3 linked regions of the Homo sapiens genome follow. The protein of the gene in region 1 interacts with the protein of each later gene in a pairwise test. Each region holds a gene or a part of one and is shown on either strand. Other genes may lie near its edges. The genes, in order: CKM, TRIM55 and ASB9.

Region 1 (7,110 bases):
CCGTCTCTACTAAAAATACAAAAAATGAGCCGGCGTGGTGGCGGGCGCCTGTATTCCCAGCTACTCGGGAGGCTGAGGCGGGAGAATGGTGTGAACCCAGGAGGTGGAGCTTGCAGTGAGCCGAGATCGTGCCACTGCACTCCAGCCTGGGTGACAGAGCGAGACTCCGTCTCAAAAAAAAAAAAAGAAGAAGAAGAAGAAAAAAGATGCCAGCTAATCTTCAATCTTCCCCTCCTGCCCTGCCCATCAGGTCTCCTACACCGCCACCATGCCATTCGGTAACACCCACAACAAGTTCAAGCTGAATTACAAGCCTGAGGAGGAGTACCCCGACCTCAGCAAACATAACAACCACATGGCCAAGGTACTGACCCTTGAACTCTACAAGAAGCTGCGGGACAAGGAGACTCCATCTGGCTTCACTGTAGACGATGTCATCCAGACAGGAGTGGACAACCCAGGTGAGCCTCCCCAGTGGAGCACTGAAGGGGCTACATGGGGGCTCTGGAGGCTGCCGGCCATGCCCCAATCCCACCACCCTTGAAGGGGGGGGGGCCTCAGTTTTCTCATCTGTAAAATGGGGCTGTTGTGGGAATCAATGCATTAATATACATAAAGGCTTGGGACAGTGCGAGGTACTCAGCAAACCACGCAATAAACATGCACGAGAATAATGTGAGATCCCCAAGGAGGTCGGTTCACCTCCTGAACCTCAGTCTCCTCATCTGAAAAATGGGCGCCCACGTTGTGAAAACACAAGTCAATGGCTGTGCAGTGCTTAGAGTGGCACCTGGCACCAAGTGAGTGCTCAAGCTCTGACAGGGGGGCCAGGTGCAGTGGCTCATGCCTGTAATCCCAGCACTTTGGGAGGCCCAGGTGGGAGGATCACTTGAGGCCAGGAGTTTGAGACCAGCCTGAGCAACATAGCAAGACCCTGTCTCTACAAAAAATACAAAAAAATTAGCCAAGTGTGGTGATGAGGGCTTGTGGTCCAAGCTACTCAGGAGGCTGCGGTGGGAGGATCGCTTGAGCCTGGGAGGTGCAGGTTGCAGTAAGCCGAGATCGCGCCACTGTACTCCAGCCACAGAGTGAGACCCTGTCTCAAAAAAAAAAAAAAAGAATCTGACAGGGGATGTTATTAATGTTATGGTTGTTTCTCAAAGGACATTGCAAGGCGAAGAGAGCTGGGAGTGGAGGGGAGGCTCTAGTGCCCCTCACATCCAGCTCACTGTGTGATGCCGGGGAGAAGCCCCTCTCTCCTGGCCCCTGTTTTTCCACTGGGAAACAAGAGGGTCTTTCAAGTCTCTTACCCTCCTGACCCTCTGTGGTACGGTGGTAGCCTGAGATCCTAACATTTCAGGCTAAGATGTCATGACTTTGGGTGCTAATGTTTCCGAGGTGCTGATGCTTTTAGCACCATGTACCCTCTGAAGCTCCCCTTTCTCCTTTGACCCCGCCCCCAGCACTCTTTCTTCTCTCCCACCTTGACCCCTCCCAGCCACCTTGACCTCTCCCAGCCTTCCCTCCCAGTTCCCACCAGTCCTCAGTGTTCTCTCTTTTTTTTTTTTTCCTTTGGAGACAGAGTCTTGCTCTGTCACCCAGGCTGGAGTGCAGTGGTGTGATCTTGGCTCACTGCAACCTCCACTCCCTTGGTTCAAGCAATTCTCATGCCTCAGCCTCCTGAGTAGCTGGGATTACAGGTGTGTGCCCCACACCCAGCTAATTTTTGTATTTTTAGCAGAGATGGGGTTTCACCCTGTTGGCCAGGCTGGTCTCACACTCCTGACCTCAAGAGATTCACCCGCCTCACCCTCCCAAAGTGCTGGGATTGCAGGCATGAGCCACTGTGCCCAACCCTTATGATTCTCAATTCCCACCCAGAGGTATTGAATGTACCCGCCCCCATCCCGACACACATGTCCACACAGGCTCCACTGAGCCCACAAGCCCACGCCCTGTTTGCTGGGGACAAGCAGCTCTGACCTCACCCCCACCCCTCCAGGTCACCCCTTCATCATGACCGTGGGCTGCGTGGCTGGTGATGAGGAGTCCTACGAAGTTTTCAAGGAACTCTTTGACCCCATCATCTCGGATCGCCACGGGGGCTACAAACCCACTGACAAGCACAAGACTGACCTCAACCATGAAAACCTCAAGGTCGGTGTCTGCGCAGGAGGGGAGGGCCGAGGGGTGAGGAGGAGAGAGATCACAGGAGAAATGGGGGGAGACAGAGAAATACAGAGACAGAGAGAGACACAGAGGTGTGGAGAAGCAGAGAGATGGAAAGAGAGAGGGACATTGGGAGGCTGAGGCGAGCGTATCACTTGAGGTCAGGAGTTCAAGACCAGCCTGGCCAACATGGCAAAACTCTGTCTTTAAAAAAAAAAAAAAGGGCTGGGCACGGCGGTGGCTCACGCCTGTAATCCCAGCACTTTGGGAGGCCAAGGCGGGCAGATCACCTTAGATTGAGAGTTTGAGACCAGCCTGACCAACATGGTGAAACCCCGTCTCTACTAAAAATACAGAATTAGCTGGGTGTGGTGGCACATGCCTGTAATCCCAGCTACGTGGGAGGCTGAGGCAGGAGAATCGCTTGAACCTGGAAGGCAGAGGTTGTGGTGAGCAGAGATCGTGCCATTGCACTCCAGCCTGGGCAACAAGGGCGAAACTCGTCTCAAAAAATAAATAAATAAATAAATAAAATAAATTAGCTGGGCATGGTGGCGCGTGCCTGTAATCCCAGCTACTCAGGAGGTGGAGGCAGGAAAATCTCTTGAACCCAGGAGATGGAGGCTGCAGTGAGCTGAGATCATGCCACTGCACTCCAGCCTGGGTGACAGAGCAAGATTCTATCTCAGAAAATAAAAAAAGGAAAGAGAGAGGGACAGAGAGACACAGAGACAGCCAAGGAGACACAGACAACCAAGGAGACAGACAGACAAAGGAGAGGGAGAGGGAGAAGAAAGGCACAAAAGCATGTAGAAAAGGAAGAGGCATAGCCGGGCACAGTGGCTCACGCTTGTAATCCCAACACTTTGGGAGGCTGAGGTGGGCGGATCATAAGGTCAGGAGTTCGAGACCAGCCTGACCAACACGGTGAAACCCAGTCTCTATTAAAAATACAAAAATTAGCTAGGCATGCTGGTGTTCACCTATAATCCTAGCTATTCAGCCTGGGTGACAGAGCGAGACTCTGCCTAAAAAAAAAAGGGTGGGGGGAGAGGCAGAGACACAGAGGGAGACAGAAGGGAGCATCAGAGAAGGCAGGAGAGACAGGGAGAGAGAGACACACGCAGTTGCAGTCAGACACAGACAAGGAGAGTGGGAGAAAGGGAGACAGGAAGAGAAACAGAAATGGGCAGAAAGGCTGGGTGCAGTGGCTATACCTGTAATCCCAGCACTTATGGAGGCTGAGGTGTGAGGATCACGTGAAGCCAGGAGAGTTCACGACCAGCTTGGGCAACATAGCAAGAACCCGTCTCTGCCCAAAAAAAAGAAAAAAAAAAGCCTAAAAATTTAGCTAGGCATGGTGGCTCATGCCTGTAATCCCATCACGTTGGGAGGCTGAGGCAGGAGGACTGTTTGAGCCCAGGAGTTTGAGACCAGCCTGGGCAACATAGTGACACCCTGTCTCTATTTTTTTTTTTTTTTTGAGACAGAATCTCACTCTGTCACCCAGGTTGGAGTGCAGTGGCTCGATCTCAGCTCACGGAAACCCCTGATCCCCAGGTTCAAGTGATTCTCGTGCCTCAGCCTCCTGAGTAGCTGGGATTACAGGCGCGCACCACCACGCCCAGCTAATTTTTGTATTTTTAGTAGAAATGGGGTTTCACCATGTTGGCCAAGCTGGTTTCGAACTCCTGACCTCAGGTGATTGGCTCACCTCGGCTTCCCAAAGTGTTGGGATTACAGGTGTGAGCCACCGCGCCCAGCCCCTGTCTCTATTTATAAAAAATTTATTTTAAGTTAGCCGAACATGGTGGCATATACCTACCTGTTAGTCCCAGCTACTTGGGAGGCTGAGGCAGGGGAATTGCTTGAGCCCAGGAGTTTGAGGTTGCAGTGAGCTATGATGGCACCACTGCACTCCAGCCTGGGCGACAGAGAGAGACCCTGTCTCGAAGAAAAAAAAGGAAAAGAAATATACGAAGATGGGGAGAGAGAGGTATAAAGAAAAACAGAGATAGGAGAGGGGAGAGAGACAGAGAAGGGAGAGACAGAGCCCAGGTATGGGTGGCGGGGAGAGGCTCCACACACCCAATCAGTGAGGATGCAGAAGGCAAAGGAAGCAACAGGGAGACTGAGGGGAGCATCTGGGGGAGACCTGGGCTTGCTGGAGAGGGCGGAGGATCTGCCTGGTCCTGATCTCCCACCCGCTCTCCAGGGTGGAGACGACCTGGACCCTAACTACGTGCTCAGCAGCCGCGTCCGCACTGGCCGCAGCATCAAGGGCTACACGTTGCCCCCACACTGCTCCCGTGGCGAGCGCCGGGCGGTGGAGAAGCTCTCTGTGGAAGGTGAGCGCCCCTACCCCGTCCACTGCTGGGGTCACCCAGCCCTGGCTCTGTTCCTCCATGGGCAGGTCCTCGGGTCTCTTTGGGCCCCCGCTTTTCAAAGTAGGGGAAGAGCTTGGTAAATCGTGGGGGCTTGGGGAATGGCGCGGGCTGTCAGCATTACCTGCTGTGTTGGAGATTCAGGGATGCTGTCCAGACCCGACGGCCCCTGAGAAGACCTACGCAGACACCTGGCTGCCCCCAGCGTCCTGCCATCCGTTCATCCAGCACACATTTCCAGGGGTTCTTGCCCTGTGTGGGGAGATAGGGGTCCCTCACTGTTCTCACAGAGTGTTCAGCTGGTGGGGAGACAAGAGGAAATACAGAAACCCACAGATGAACAAGATAATTCAAAAGTGCCATGAAGCCAAGACATGGGTGTGGTGGAGAATGACCGAGGGGAGCCACCTCAGATAGGAGGAGTTGAGGCCGGGCACAGTGGCTCCCACAGCAGTGCGGGAGGCCTAGGAGGGAGGGTCGCTTGAGCCCAGGAGTTCAAGACCAGACTGGGCAATACAGCAAGACCCTGTCTCTACAAAAAAGACAAAAATGAGCCAGGAGTGGTGGCACACACCTGTCATCCCAGCTACTCAGGAGACTGAGGTGGGAGGATCACTTGAGCCCGGGAGGTTGAGGCTGCAGTGAATCGTGATTGTGCCACTGCACTCCAGCCAGGGTGACAGAGTGAGAACCTGCCTCAAAAACAAATAAAAAGAGGCCAGGCACAGTGGCTCACACCGTAATCCCAGCATTTTGGGAAGCTGAGGCAGGTGGATCATTTGAGGTCAGGAGTTTGAGACCAGCCTGGCCAACATGGTAAAACCCCATCTCTACTAAAAATACAAAAATCAGCTGGGTCTGGTGGCACACACCTGTAATCCCAGCGACTTGGGAGACTGAGGCAGGAGAATCGCTTGAACCTGGGAGGCAGAGGTTGCAGTGAGCTGAGATCACGCCACTGCACTCCAGCCTGGGGGACAGAGTGTGACTCCATCTCAAAAAAAAAAGTTATGTTTATCCTATACTGTAGTCTGTTAAGTGCACAATAGCATTATGTCTAGAAAAAAAAAAGTACATACCTTAATTTTAAAATCCTGCTAAAAATGTTGTGATCATTTGAGGACTCAGCAAGTTGGAACCTTTCTGTTGTGTAGGGCCTTGCCTTGATGTTGATGGGCTGCTGACTGATCAGGGCGGTTGTCGTTCAAGGTTGAGATGGCTGCGGCAATTCCTTCCTTCCTTCCTTCCTTCCTTTCCTTTCTTTTCTTCCTCCCTTCCTTCCCTTCCTTCCCTCCCTCCCTTCCTTCCCTTCCCTTCCCTTTTCTTCTCCGTCCTTCCTTCCTTCCTTCTTTCCTCCCTCCCTTCCTCCCTTCCTTCCTTCCTTCTCTTTCTCTCTCTCTTTTCAAGACAGGGTCTTGTTCTGTTGCCCAGCTGGAATGCAGTGGTGCAATCATGACTTACCATAACCTCCAACTCCTGGGCTTAAGTGATCCTCCCATGTTGGTCTCCCAAAGTGCTGGCATTACAGGTGTGAGCCACAGTGCCTGGCCAGCAGTAATAGTTTGAAAAGAATCTCTTTTTTGAGATGGAGCCACACTCTTGTCGCCCAGGCTGGAGTGCAGTGGTGCAATCTTGGCTTACTGTTACCTCCACCTCGTGGTTCAAGCAATTCTCGTGTCTCAGCCACCCAAGTAGCTGAGATCACCGGCATGCGCCACCACGCCTGGCTAATTTTTGTATTTTTAGTAGAATCGGGGTTTCGCCATCTTGGCCAGGCTGGTCTCAAACTCCTGATCTCAGGTGATCTGCCTGCCTCAGCCTCCCAAACCACTAGGATTACAGGCGTGAGCCACCGCACCTGGCCTATGAAGCTTTTTATTTAAAGTGAAAAATGTTGACTCTTCCTTTCACTTGAACACCTCGAGGCCATTGTAAGGTTATGAACTGAATTGGCCTGATTTCAAAATCATGTGTCTCAGGGAATACGGAGGCTCAAGGAGATGGGGAGAGATGAGGGAATGGCTGGTCAGTGGGGCAGTCCGAGCACACACATTTATCCATTAAGTTCACCCTTTTATATGGGCAAGGTCGGTGGCACCCCCCAAAATTAAAACAGTAACATCAGAGATCACTGATCACGGATCGCCATGACAGATATAGTAATAATGAGAAAGTCTGCAGTACTGTGAGAATTACCCACATGTGACACAGAGACACGAAGTGGCACATGCTGTAGGAAAAATGGCTCCAATAGACCTGCTGGACAAAGAGTTGCCACAAACCTCCAATTTGTAAAAAACACAGTATCTGCAAAATGCAATAAAACGAGGTATGTCTGTATATTATATGAATATGTATAAGATATATAAATATTATAGATTTATTGTACATATGCACAAACACAAATTCATTATACACATATTTTATACATGAATATACAAATAAACACACAATTTTTTTTCTTTTTTTTTTTTTTAGACAGAATCTCACTCTGTCACCCAGGCTGGAGTGCAGTGGCAAAATCTCAGCTCACTGCAACCTCCACCTCTTGGGTTCA
Region 2 (7,110 bases), on another chromosome or scaffold:
TCATAATTGATAATGATGATATCTCAACTTCAATCCTATGCACAGTGTTAGCCAAAATAATGTAAAGTGTCAGCAGGAGCAAGGTTAAAGATGAGATAAAAACAATACATAGGAGGCATGTGGGTTAGATATTGCAGCACATCAACTTAATCAAAATTTAGAGGACAAGAATAGTAACAACTCATAGAATAAGTCACAACCTGAACATAAACCTGGGTCTGTGTGACTAGTTATACTCCCTGAGCTATAACCACATTCCTACCTTTTGGCCCAGAAGTCCCATTTCTGAAATTTTATCCTGATTAAATAATTGAAAAGTGAAAAACAATCTTGGAGCTGACCAAAACTTTGATCACTTTGACTCATGCTAGCCCACCTAGATGATCACACCCCTCAGCTAGACCACTAGACCACTAGTAATGCTATGAGGCTGCACCAACATCCACAGACAAAATTTTAAAGGCAAATCTTTAGGATGTATCTTTTTAAAAAAATCGCTTAATATTGCCTGTCCTTAATGTCGCCTGAGGGAATATTAAGATCAGTGGGTCAGGAAAAGAGTCACGGCATTCCAGCACTTTGGGAGGCCAAGGCGGGTGGATCACTTAAGGCCAGGAGTTTGAGACCAGCCTGGCCAACATGGTGAAACCCCATCTCTACTAAAAATACAAAAAAATTAGCCGGGCGTGGTGGCGTACGCCTGTAATCCCAGCTACTCCAGAGGCAGAGGCAGGAGAATCACTTGAACCCAGGAAGCGGAGGTTCCAGTGAGCTGAGATTGCACCACTGCACTCCAGCCTGGGTGACAGAGTGAGACTCTGTCTCAAAAAATAATAAATAAATAAATAAATAAATAAATAAATAAATAAATAAATAAAAGAGTCGTGACATTAATTATGGCAAAAGTCAGTATTCACTGAACAACAGAGGTAGAAAGCTAAAATGACAAAAGGGCTTTGTATGTTTTCTGAGACAGGGAAGACAGTTGCACTTCCATTTAATCTGACAGAGATAAATAAGTGACAATCCCAGGCCTCCAGGAGCTTGCAGATGTGGCAGACTGTAATAAAAATGTGGACGGGCTCTGGAAGGTGAAGGGCATTATGCACAGCAGAGGTGAAGACTTTGTACTGGGGAGGAGAACAAGGAGGATAGGGATGGTTCCTTCACATTTGTCCAGTCCACATTCCACTAGAAGCACAAAGCCCTGGCACGGCACACTTGGACCATTGTCAAGTGTCTGTCAGAGAAAAACTCCCCAGCCTTGACCTTAACTAGGGCTATAAGCACTGGCCATTAACTGTGTCCATGGCTGCAGAGATAGTTATAACAATTTACAAGATACCTTACCTTACCAGAAGATGAAGATGAAGAAGAAGAAGAAGGCGGAGAAGGAGAAAAAGAAGGAGAAGGAGAAGTGGGAGGAGAAGCAGTAGAAGTGGAAGAGGTAGAAAATGTTCAAACAGAGTTTCCAGGAGAAGATGAAAACCCAGAAAAAGCTTCAGAGCTCTCTCAGGTGGAGCTGCAGGCTGCCCCTGGGGCACTTCCAGTTTCCTCTCCAGAGCCACCTCCAGCCCTGCCACCTGCTGCGGATGCCCCTGTGACACAGGTAACCCCTCCTGAGTCTCTTTCTACAGGGCACATGGGCGTGTCTCCTTATGGAATAGCCTAAACAATTTACCCTATTCTGCCTTAAGAAAAAGATAACTATATGCCAGACATTCGTATATGGTAGACGAAAGATTTCAGGACAGTCCTCATGTCGGGGAGAAAAGTCCTCTAGGTGATTCAACAGGTTCTTTGTTGTTATTGTTAGTTAACAAAATTTAATACAACTTTCCCACCAGTAATGCCCTCAAATCAAAGGCAATCTTTGTCTGGAAATTGTGTGTGTGTGTGTGTGTGTGTGTGTGTGTGTGTGTGTGTGTCCATGTCTGTGTGTCATGTTAATTCATAGAGAGCTGATATCATGGGGACTGGGTCTGCTCTTTGTTACTTAGTGAATGTATATGTAGGGTATAGGATGAGAAATAAATAGCATACAGAGTAAGAAATAAAAGTGATTATACTTTCAGAACTTTGAATTTTCTGTAGATAATTGAGGGGGTAAATAGAGAAACTACACTAGTTTATGTTCCTGTTGCTTACCCTGAAATACAACTTATGTATTTTTCCTTCAGTGAGCAAACAATGAAGCCTGGTTTTCTATGGATTTGTCATTTGATGAGATTGTGTGTTGACAGAATTGTTTAAAACATATCTTAAGAAATAAGCTCACCCCAGATGCTGCACCTAATTGGTTGACCTCATGTTTCTAATACGTCACCGTCCAGTTTTCAAGCCTTTGTGCAGACTCCATGATACTTCAGCAGACAGGATCCCAACCTTTTGAGTTTGCAGGCAGTGCAGACTCATCAGAGAGGAGTCCTGCTTCTGCAACTGCTTTTGAAGTGGATTGAAACAAAACTCCAGAGGGGGATCTCAGAGATGGAACTGTATTTCTATGCTCTGTCTCCACAGGAAACCAGGCTAAAATGCCATTTATAGTCTAGAATTTTTAAATTCTGAGCATTTCAGTTGTATTAAAATTGAAAGAGGTATAGTAACTAAGTGAGGGTTGGATTTGATCAATAAGATTAATTTTTGTTTTTTATAATGAGGTTTTTGGGACTCACGTATAAAGCCAACAAATTATTCTAGTCAATAGTTTGACCCTTTTCCCATATCTGATATTTTATAACCAACATTCACTGAGGTTTCTGCTCTCTGCCTGCCTGGGCTCCCAGTGAGTGAAAGACAAGCTCAGAAAAGAAGAGGGCACCCATCCAGATGCTGGACAGAGGGGCACTGTAGTCACCATTCTGCCCTTAGCGCTTCTGGAGGGTGGGATGAACTAAAACGGCCACCAAGGCACTGCATGCAGGGAGCGCACAGTGTTCAAACCCAAAGGGAACTAAAATCAACTGCTTTTTCTTCTTCTTCTTCTTTTTTTTTTTCTTTACTTTTGAATTTATCTGTCCTGATTAAGGGGGAGGTTGTACCCACTGGCTCTGAGCAGACCACAGAGTCTGAAACTCCAGTCCCTGCAGCAGCAGAAACTGCGGATCCCTTGTTTTACCCTAGTTGGTATAAAGGCCAAACCCGGAAAGCCACCACCAACCCACCTTGCACCCCAGGGAGCGAAGGTCTGGGGCAAATAGGGCCTCCAGGTTCTGAGGATTCGAATGTACGGAAGGCAGAAGTGGCAGCAGCCGCAGCGAGTGAGAGGGCAGCTGTGAGTGGTAAGGAAACTAGTGCACCTGCAGCTACTTCTCAGGTTAGTGATGATGCACTTGTGTCTATGCTTTCCCGCGCCCCCTAGGGTCCCACTGGAACAGGCCACAGCAAGAAGAAAAAGGGTTTTCAAAGGGGCAGAGAGAAACCTCAGCCAGGGGAAAAGTACAGAAACAATTCATCCCCCAATGTTGGCTTGTTTTGAGCTCTATATAAAAGAAAACATAAAACAAAACAAATTTGAGTTCACTCTCCTGGTGCATGGTGACCTCACACCTGGCTTCCCAGGGGAGGGGTGCAAGTGAGCCTGGCCCTTAGGCATGCTACTGAGCGCTGCTTCATCTGCAGTGACTGGCTGTGTCCCCAGTCCTCCTTACCAACGGCCACTTGCCCTTGCTCAGCCTTCCCTGTGTCCTCCTTGGGCTTCTAAAGACTAATCCCCTGCTTTTGTGTCATTCCCAGCAACCCCCAAGGAGCACACTTGAGTTTTAAGTCTGTTCTGGAGAATAACCTCTGATTCATGGATTCTTGGAGTGTGCTGGCTACAGCTAGACAGAGACAGTCTTGGCTTGATTAAACCTGTGCTTCCTAAGCATGTACTCCTGGGAGTGGAAAAGCACAGGTGCTCCTCCACAGAGATTTTTTTCAAGAGACTCTTTCTTTATATGATGAGTTTGAAGTCCATGTCTTCCCCCTAACACTTGGTTAGATGTTTGCATGTCTTGAAGAGTCCACAGAAGAAATCTTTTACAATTTCTTCACAAGGAAGAATGTTCATGGTGACTCCATACTCATGAGCATTCTTAAATGATGTGTAGGGTGTGAGTGTTGCCCAGGCAAGAAGCTGCCAGAAAGCACTCTCCAGTTCCATGCTCCTGGGTCATCAGGTGATTGATTATGAACCACAAACAACATGTTCTCAAAAATCAGACAATGACTTATTATTTTGATTGTATCTGCCCAAGAGACTTCAATTCCATGAGGTAGTAAAAGGAAATGATTTTGGAAAATTAAAAGTAACATGCTTTGGGGTTGGATGTTTATTTTCACAGATAAAATGACAAAAATAAATGTTTGGTGGGAAGAAATCTTATGAGGTGGTTTTTAGGTAAAAGATGCAGTAGACTGATTATTTCTAGAAAATGTGTGGCAATTCTTATACATGGTAGTAGAAGCTGTGTGCGGAGGGGCTGTTTTCTGAAAACAGTAGTGCACTACCCCATGAAGAGCACGTAGTAGGGCTCAAGCCAAAATGAAAAGTCCATTGAAATAATGTTGAAAATAATTATTTGTGATAATATCAGTGAAGCTTTCTTCTTGTTTTCTCACAGGAGTTAGTAATCTGCCTAGCGCTTTTGGCTTTTCTTATTCTTCACTACATCTGGAGTCAGATTCAGTGCTTGATTTTTACTTTAATGGGTAGGAAATATTTTCTTTTCCCTTGACTAACATCTCACATAGTTTCTTCCATAATGTTCCTCTTCTATAGGCCCAGAGATTAATTTCTCCCCAAATCTTGAGGCTCAGTCCTCCCAAAAGAACATTGTTCTCAGATTATACTGGAGGCCTCAAGCTCACACAATGCAATCGCCTCAAGACCTCTTTCTGAGGAGAATTGCTCCATTATCTATTCCTGCATGGAGGGGAACCTTGACTGAGAACAGTAACTCCATGGGCAATTATTCAGTAATCCAGGAGGAGCAAACCCTCCAGAATGGTCATTAGGGGAGGCCAGTTTCAAGTGTCCATAATGCGGTGAGGACTTACTGCTCGTAGAGAAAGGAGCGGCAAAGGACTCCTGCAGGAAAATGCAGGTTTCCATAGATTAAGTACAAGCATTTCATCTGCTTACACCAGAGATGCCCAGGAGGTGGCCAAGTGACTCCTCGTGGGATGATGTTCTAGGCAGTTCCTATGCAGGTGAGCAGGTGGGTTCTCTTTGAACCCTCAGACTCTACAGAGTTTCTCCTGGGAGAGGAGGTCCCTGAGAGAAAGATGCCCTGACTGAAGAAATATCTGGGGGATTGCAGCCACGTGAGACCTGAATGAATTAACAGCCAGAGGATCAATGTGCACTTACCAGCTATCAGGAATTAGAACCAAGAACTAAGCCATAAAGTCATCAAGCAGTCCATTTATATTATTTCCGAGTCACCGTTCTCATAGCCAAGCCTTTGCTTGATTGCTGTTATGAGGTTTGCTTGAGGACTGACATCATAATCCTTTAATACCCTTTTGAAAGTTCTCAGTTTAATTAATAATATTTAAAGATTCCAACTTCCATGTACTTTTGTGTAAATGACCCTGCTGGGCCTGAGACCCAACTCCTTGTTCCTGTAGCTCAAAGGCAGTTCAGGGTCAATGGTGCTGAAAAGCCTCGGCTATTTCTGGCTCACTGACTTTTCCCTGGGTTGACACTGACTCTTCTGGAAGCTCCCTTCATAGACTTTCTGCCTCATTAGCCATCTGCTCAGCAATGGCGGTGGCGTCTCCATTGGTCTCTGCCGTGTCTGGAACTGTGTGTGAGCAGGACCTGCCCACAATGTCCAATAGTCAGCTGGAAACCTGTGCACCCTAGAGTGTCCTGAGTGTCCTTACAGTCTGCTCAGCTGCCCAACTCCTTCAGACATTATCTGTGGTAAAAAGGAGTGGGAGGATGTATTGGCCATGGACTCAGAGGGGTGAATGGTGAGAGAGAAAACTCCATGCTTTATTGGAACCAGGACCTAATTGTGGATCTGAATAATTGTCTGAAGGGTTCTGTTTACATTCTGAGAATTCGGGTTTAGGGCTTTGTCACTACATATATGTCTTGTATTGCTTCTCTGAGGCTGCAGAGGGAGTGTCATGCTTCAAGGCTGTGATCCACTGAGCCCATGTCATGTATGCTGACATCCACGTGCCTGCCTAGGGAGAGGAGGGTGGGGCAGGTGGAGCAGGTGTGGGGAGGGCGTTGACATCCAGTATTGCAAAAAACCTTACTGTATAGTTCTTGGTGTTTGAGGAAGGGCCTTTCACATAGAGAAGGACACCTGTTCATGATGGAGTACTACTCTTTGATCCCAGAAATGGGATATGGGCAGGTTGATAGAGACCTCACTATAGTAGCAAATTCCCGGCCTCTGAGAATATTTTGCAGGTCTGATTCACCTTCACCACTTCAGAACCCAGTTTACCAGATTCATATTTGTCCAGTTCAAGGTTAGAGTGCTAGAATTTCACATTTCATCACTAGGCTTACCTTGAGTATTTAGGATGTGGTAAGAGTTCTCTTTGATTCAGTGGTGGTCTTATCTCTCTTTACTAGGTGGTCCCGTGTCAGAGTAATGCTGCCTTTAAAACTCAGAAGCATCTCAGGCTCACTTGCTGATCTGTAAACTACATTCAGCCCACAACAGCTGAACTGCAAACCTTTTAGAAGCAAATGCTCTATTTCCTGGTGCTTTCCTTACATCCATGTACACAGTGAAACATGCCCTCGATTTTACTGCCTGTGGTTTCTGGTGCTGAACAATTTCTGCTTTATCACATACCTTACCTTCTCTCTTCACCCAAGTACACAGGCAAAAAAAACCGGTCATGGCAAAAACCAAACATCAGCTTCCTCTACGAGTGATGGACAGGACCACTACTTTTTGTTAGATCAGAAGAGTGCTGTAGCTCCCCCATGGGCATTCTCTAAGAAAAAGCAAGGTTTGGATTCAGCCTTGTGGTGAATTTGAACTCATCAAAGGCCCCAGTTTCCTTGGGCTTCTACAGGATCTCTATTTGGTGGATTAACTCAGCAGCTGCTCTGGCTGATACTTGAGCTGGACACAGCAGCTGCCTCAGGGTAAG
Region 3 (6,952 bases), on another chromosome or scaffold:
ATAAAATAACCGTGCAGAAGTCAACCAAATTACCGATTCTTTCCCATAATGATTGGTTTGCTGTTTTAAAAATATATTTATCGGCCGGGCACAGTGGCTCACACCTGTAATCCTAGCACTTTGGGAGGCCGAGGCGGGCAGACTTCCCTGAGCTCAGGAGTTGGAGACCAGCCTGGGGCAACATGGTGAAACCCCGTCTCTACTAAAATACAAAAAAAAAACACCCCAAAAAATTAGCCAGGCGTGTGCCTGTAGTCCCACCTAGTCCCTGCCTCTCCCTCCTGAGGCAGAATTGCTTGAACCCAGGAGGCCGAGGTTGCAGTGAGCCGAGATGGTGCCACTGCACTCCAGCCTGGTAACAGAGCGAGACTCCATCTAAAAAAAAAATATATATATATATATAATTATATATATAATTCCTTGTAAAAAGTGGCCGGGCGTGGTGGCTCACGCCTGTAATCCCAGCACTTTGGGAGGCCAAGGCGGGCGGATCACGAGGTCAGGAGATTGAGACCATCCTGGCTAACATGGTGAAACCCCGTCTCTACTAAAAATACAAAAATCAGCTGGGTGTGGTGGCGGACGCCTGTAATCCCAGCTACTCAGGAGGCTGAGGCAGGAAAGTCGCTTGAACACGGGAAGGTGGAGTTTGCAGTGAGCTGAGATTGCTCCACTGCATTCCAGCCTGGGTGACAGAGTGAAACTCCACTTCAAAAAAAACAAAAAAAAAAAAAAAAAAAGAAATTCTTTGTGAAAAGTGATTTTTGATGCCACTCTTGCTTTCCTAGTTCTCCAAACTCATGCTCAATACATCTGCTGATTAATCCAGTTCTGCCTTTGTGGATCTAAATCCCACTCACCATTGAGTACTCTGCTCATTTTATAAGTGAAATTGGATAAATGAATGAATGAATGAGCAGGCTAGTCTACTCAGTCAAAGGGAAGACGTTTTGTGTTTTATTTCTTCCATTTTTACCTTTTTGGTACCTGTATAGTAGATTAATAAACCCTGACTGACGGCCGGGCGTGGTGGCTCACACCTGTAATCCCAGCACTTTGGGAGGCCCAGGCGGGCAGATCACCTGAGGTCAGGAGTTCTAGACCAGCCTGGCCAACGTGGTGAAACCCCGTCTCTACTAAAAATACAAAAATTAGCCGGGTGTGGTGGCGGGCGCTTATAATCCCAGCTACTCGGGAGGCTGAGGCAGGAGAATCTCTTGAACCCGGGAGGCAGAGGTTGCAGTGAGCGGAGATCTCGCCATTGCACTCCAGCCCAGGCGACAGAATGAGACTCCGTCTCAAAAAAACAAAACAAAACAAAACACCCTGACTTCAGGGTCCCTGTTTATTGCCCCTTTGATCAACAGGTGCTGTGGACAGTATACCAGGTATATATTTTTTTCTTTTTTCTTTGATACGGAGTCTCACTCTGTCGCCAGGCTGGAGTGCTGTGGCGAGATCTAGGTGCACTGCAACCTCCGCCTCCCGGGTTCAAGTGATTCTCCTGCCTCAGCCTCCCGAGTAGCTGGGATTACAGGCACGTGCCATCACACCCAGCTAATTTTTGTATTTTAGGTAGCGACGGAATTTCATCATGTTGGCCAGGATGGTATCCTGACATCGTGATCTGCCCGCCTCGGCCTCCGAAAGTACTGGGATTACAGGCGTAAACCACCGTGCCCCGCCTATATATACAGGCCTGAACCCGGGAGGCGGAGGTTGCAGTGAGTCGAGATCGCGCCACTGCACTCCAGCCTGGGCCACAGAGCAAGACTCCGTCTCAAAAAGAAAAAAAAATTAATAAATAATAAATACAGCAATTCAGCAGGGCTGCTGCAACACCAGCTTTCCCAGCTCTGGGTGCTGGGGCTTGTCTCCGTCACAAGCCCCCAAGGATCTCAACAGGGTGAACAACAGTTGCAGAAAGTGAGCTGTTGCCTTCACCCTCACCCTGCTGCTCCCTTTGCTCTCCGAAAGTTACGAACTTTGAGTTTCCTTCCCGATAAACTCCAAGGTTTCCTCACTGATTGGTCTCAGTTTGGGAAAGGACGTGACATCAGCAAGTTTGCAGACTTGGGGCTGGAGAGTTAACCAGTATATTACTAACCAATATACTATTATTTATAAGAACCTGTGTGCAAATGCCTAAACCCATTTTTCAGAATCCTTTCAGCCAACAGGCACCTGCTGAATGCTCACCGAAGTGTGTATTTGTGGGATTCTGTACATTAGCACAGACACCACTTGACAGATGAGAACAATACCTGTAAGATGATTCTCCAATGTTTTAAGTAAAACAAAGTCTCTTTTGTCTCTTTTGAAAGTGACTCAATCAGTGCTCAATGTTTGAACATCTTTATAAACCCTGCCCCACCTAAATGCCAAACACCTAAGACTTACAAATTAAAAAGTTTTAGCATTAAAAATTTTCCTATTTATAAGTAACTTTCAAACCTCCAATTTAATAAATAATGCATTTGACCCACAAAGAATGATTCCTGGGAGCTGAAATTTTCACTGGAGAATAATTTGTGACAATTGAATTTGTCTTGTCTGTAGGATTCTGCAGAAAGAAGTATACACATTTTTGAACAGCTGTGTAAAGAATATATACCAGTGAGCTGTGGACATCTGCCCAGTAACAGCCCCATGGACACCTCACACAGAGCCACTGAAACTGCCCAACCCTCCTCTCCTAAGCACATTAGCCAACCTCCCCAGGGCTGATTCCACTGCCCCTATGACTCACCGCCCATCAATGGGTTTGAAAGAAGCCTGATGCCAGGAAAGTCCCTTGGCCCCGCGGGCTTGCTCCCATCCATGCCCCCTTGTTTGCCATCCATGATGCTCTCTCCTAAGCGAGCAAGCTCTGCGCTCCACTTCAGTTGCTCAGCAAAGTCCAAACTCCATGCTCCCCCTGCTCCTGAAAAATTCCAGTTCTGTGGCTGGCTGAGCTGCACACGTTCTGGTCAAATGGTCTGCAGCAAAGCACAGAGCAGGCAGGGTAATCTGAGTGCTACCTGTGATCAGAGAGAGGCATGCGCTCGTGTACACACACACACACACACACACACACACACGTTTTACCTAACTGGCTGGAGGCCCGCCAGAGGCCACAAGAACCCTCCAGCCCTAAGTCTGCGAAGTTGCTGATGTCACGTCCTTTCCCAAACTGAGACCAATCAGTGAGGAAGCCTTGGAGTTTATCAGGAAGGAAACTCAGTTTGTAACTTTTGAGAGTGAAGGGAGCAGGGTGGGGGTGAAGGAAACAGCTCACTTTCTGCAACTGTTGTTCACCCTGCTGAGATCCGTTTGTTACATGGTAGCTTGTTATGGAGACAAGCCCGAGCACCCAGAGCTGAGAAAGCTGGTTTTGCAGCAGCCCTGCTGAATTGCTTGCACAGTAACATGCACAGCACGCCCTGGCCATCTGTACATGTGCTTTCAATTGTGCTGGGAGTTTCTTATGGGAAATGTGTCTATATGTTACAAAAAATGTACCTTTGGAAAGAACCATTTGTTCCTTTCAGCTGCAAGAATTTCACTAAATGTCCTACCTCACCCCTCCTCCACTCATTTTAACTTCTAAATAAATAATGAACGGTTGCAATTGGAAAAATGGATTGCTAGGTGGCCTGAGATGTGGAAGAGACCTGCTATCTTTTCATTGTGAATTACTAAAATTTATTTTGTTAACGTTTTGCTGTTTTTGCTTATACAAAACATTAGGGGCCGGGCGCGGTGGCTCATGCCTGTAATCCCGGCACTTTGGGAGGCCAAGGCGGGCGGATCACGAGGTCAGGAGTTTGAGACCAGCCTGACTAACATAGTGAAACCCCGTCTCTACTAAAAATACAAAAAAATTAGCTGGGCCTGGTGGCAGGCGCCTGTAATCCCAGCTACTCGGGATGCTGAGGCAGGAGAATCGCTTGAACCCAGGAGGCAGAGGTTGCAGTGAGCCGAGATCATGCCACTGCACTCTAGCCCAGGCGACAGTGCGAGACTCCACCTCAAAAAAAAAAAAATTTGGATGTACTGTGTCCATGTCTTTTCAGATAAACCCAGTTGCCTCACACCCCTGGGTGCTACTTCAGGCTGACAGGCACCTCTAGACTCCCACCATTCCTCTCTTCCAGGTAGAAGAGGATTTTTCATCCCCATGGGGGAAGGCTCTGAGTTAAGTCTCAAGCATAGACTGGCTGTGAAGTGATTGCAGATTTGTCTTAATGCCAAAGATGAGGCCTAGATGTTTTAGATTTACGGAGTCTCAGTTAAAACATTTGGTGGCTGTTATTAACAGTTTGAGGGGTGTAATTCACGTTTTTAAAGGCATTTATATGCATACACATGTATGCACATTTATCAATTTACATTTTCCACATAAATGTACCTATATTATTCTTTTTTTTTTGAGACAGGGTCTCACTTTGTCACCTGGACTCGAGTGCCATGGTGTCATATCGGCTCACTGCAACTTTCACCTCCTGAGCTCAAGCAATTCTCCTGCCTCAGCCTCCTGAGTACCTGGGATTACAGGAGCGCACCACTGTGCCCAGCTAATTTTAGTATTTTTAGTAGAAACAGGGTTTCACCATGTTGGCCAGGCTGGCCTCAAACTCCTGATCTCACGTGATCCCCCTTCCTTGGCCTCCCAAAGTGCTAGGATTACAGGCGTGAGCCACCGCACCCGGCCCCTATATTATTCTATTATTCTATGCTTTTTACACTTATTTTGTCTGTGAGAGCTTTCCATATCAGCTTTTATAGGTATGCTCCTGTCTTTATTCACTGTTGCATAGCATTCCATATTGTGCCAGAAGTATTTAATTATGCTCCTAATGATGCAAGCAGAATGTCATTATTTCTGTTAGTACTATGAAAGGACTAAAGTTCATATTTTTGTACATGTGGCTTTGTGCACATAGGCAAATATTTCTAGAGGAGAGATTCCTAAGAGTGGAAATGCTAAGTCAAAGGCATACTTATGCACATGTAATAAATTGTATAAAACTGAAGACACACACAGGAATGAGTACAAGTAAAACCGGGGAATTGAATAAGATCAGTAGATTGTATGAATGTTGATTTCCCAGTTACAATATTGTACTATAGTTTTGCAAAAAGTCACCATTGAGGGAAACTGGGCAAAGTGCACTGGAGATCTCTATGTGATTTCTTACAACTGCATGTGAATCTGTAATGATCTCAATACAAATTGCACTTTTTGAAAAGAGGCTGCTCATTTAAAATTTGGATAAACACTACTAAACTTCCCTCTATCTCTATTTGCAGAATTAACTGAGAAGGCCATAAGCATACAAATTCTTTACCACTCCATCAGGAAAGATCTGAAGAATGATACATTTGTTTGGCAGAGAGTGAGGAATTGATTCCCAACACAGACTGGATGAGGAGTTGAACAGAAGGGCACAATGGGGAAACTGGATACTATTTCCTTTCCTTCCCAGTAAAATCTTTGTACTACAGCTTCTTTATTTACTTTTAATTAAATTCCAAGTAGATAAGCCTTTTCCATATTCAAAATTAAGTTCCAAAATGACAATAAAGAAGATTTCCAGGTTGTTTCCCTAGTACCTGGGAGGGAATTAATTCATCAGCCTTTAATCTTCTCATTTTATTTATGATGTTGATCAACACCAGTGAATAGGAGGATTGGAGATGAATTTTTAAACTGTTTAACAACAGTTCTTTACAAGGGGAGTTCATGCATTTGTGGATTTGTATGAGGATAAAGTTGAATCACATGTGTATGAGCTTTGATTATGGAGAAATTGGTTGGCTTACCAACAGCCATAAGAGAAAAGCAATCTTACCAACTTCTAGTCAGCCTTGGTGTGTGTCAGTGTGTGTGTCTGGATGTTCAGTGAAATTGGCACAGGTTAGGTTAGAAAACAGAATGATCGTTGCCTGCAGCAGATGATAAGGCCACAGTCATTCCTCACCAGGAGCAGTGTTCACACTAGCCAGGGCCTCTGCCCCACCCCTCACTTAGATGTCCAAGGCACACCTCAGGTATGGTTTAGGAGACTCTTTCCTCCCCAATGTAGCCGGCTCAAGTCCAGCTGCTAAGAGGCTGAAAACTTAAGAAGCGAGAGGTATGGTGAAAGGAAATCAACTTTATCTAAATGCTGCTGAGAGATGAAGCCAGCTGGAATTCCTGGGTGGAGTGGGGACTTGGAGAACTTTTGTGTCTAGCTAAAGAATTGTAAAAGGACCAATCAGCACTCCATAAAAACCCACCAATAGCGCTCTGTGTCTAGCTAAAGGATTGTAAACGCACCAATCAGCACTCTGTAAAAACGCACCAATCAGTGCTCTGTGTCTAGCTAAAGGATTGTAAGCGCACCAATCAGTACTCTGTAAAAATGCACCAATCAGCACTCTGTGTCTAGCTAAAGGATTGTAAATGCACCAATCAGCACTTAAAAACACGCCAATCAGCGCTCTGTGTCCAAAGGATTGTAAATGCACCAATTAGCACTCTGTAAAAACGCACCAATCGGTGCTCTGTGTCTAGCTAAAGGATTGTAAATGCACCAATCAGCACTCTGTAAAATGGACCAATCAGCGCTCTGTAAAATGGACCAATCTGCAGGATGTGGGCGGGGACAAATAAGGGAATAAAAGCTGGCCACCCCCCCAGCCAGCAGCAGCAACCTGCTCGGGTCTCCTTCCATGCTGTGGAAGCTTTGTTCTTTCACTCTCCAGAATAAATCTTGCTGCTGCTCACTCTTTGGGTCTGTGCCACCTTTAAGAGCTGTAACACTCACCACAAAGGTCCATGGTTTCATTCTTGAAGTCAGCAAGACCAAGAACCCACTGGAAGGAACCAACTCCGGACACATTACCAGTTGGAGAATGGCCTGCCTTTGAAAGACCGTTCCAACTTTTTGGGCTGAGTGAAGGGGTTTATGGAGGAAAAAGGTGTGGG

The links.
Region 2: the proteins of CKM (region 1) and TRIM55 interact in a two-hybrid assay, tested with the Homo sapiens proteins (one study listed by BioGRID).
Region 3: the proteins of CKM (region 1) and ASB9 interact in binary tests that used the Homo sapiens proteins (3 or more experiments, as listed by UniProt).

What each region holds. Positions count from the first base shown.
Region 1 is NC_000019.10:45,312,872-45,319,981, reverse strand, and holds part of CKM (creatine kinase M-type), read left to right. Parts: intron 1-250; 5' UTR 251-268; coding exon 269-461; intron 462-2,002; coding exon 2,003-2,157; intron 2,158-4,384; coding exon 4,385-4,517; intron 4,518-7,110. UniProt on the Homo sapiens protein: Reversibly catalyzes the transfer of phosphate between ATP and various phosphogens (e.g. creatine phosphate).
Region 2 is NC_000008.11:66,151,019-66,158,128, forward strand, and holds part of TRIM55 (tripartite motif-containing protein 55), read left to right. Parts: intron 1-1,358; coding exon 1,359-1,609; intron 1,610-3,028; coding exon 3,029-3,316; intron 3,317-4,604; coding exon of another isoform or gene 4,605-4,692; intron 4,693-7,110. UniProt on the Homo sapiens protein: E3 ubiquitin ligase that plays an important role in regulating cardiac development and contractility, muscle growth, metabolism, and fiber-type differentiation.
Region 3 is NC_000023.11:15,267,032-15,273,983, forward strand, and holds the start of ASB9 (ankyrin repeat and SOCS box protein 9), read right to left. Parts: upstream 3,053-6,952; 5' UTR 2,844-3,052; coding exon 2,750-2,843; intron 1-2,749. UniProt on the Homo sapiens protein: Substrate-recognition component of a cullin-5-RING E3 ubiquitin-protein ligase complex (ECS complex, also named CRL5 complex), which mediates the ubiquitination and subsequent proteasomal degradation of target proteins.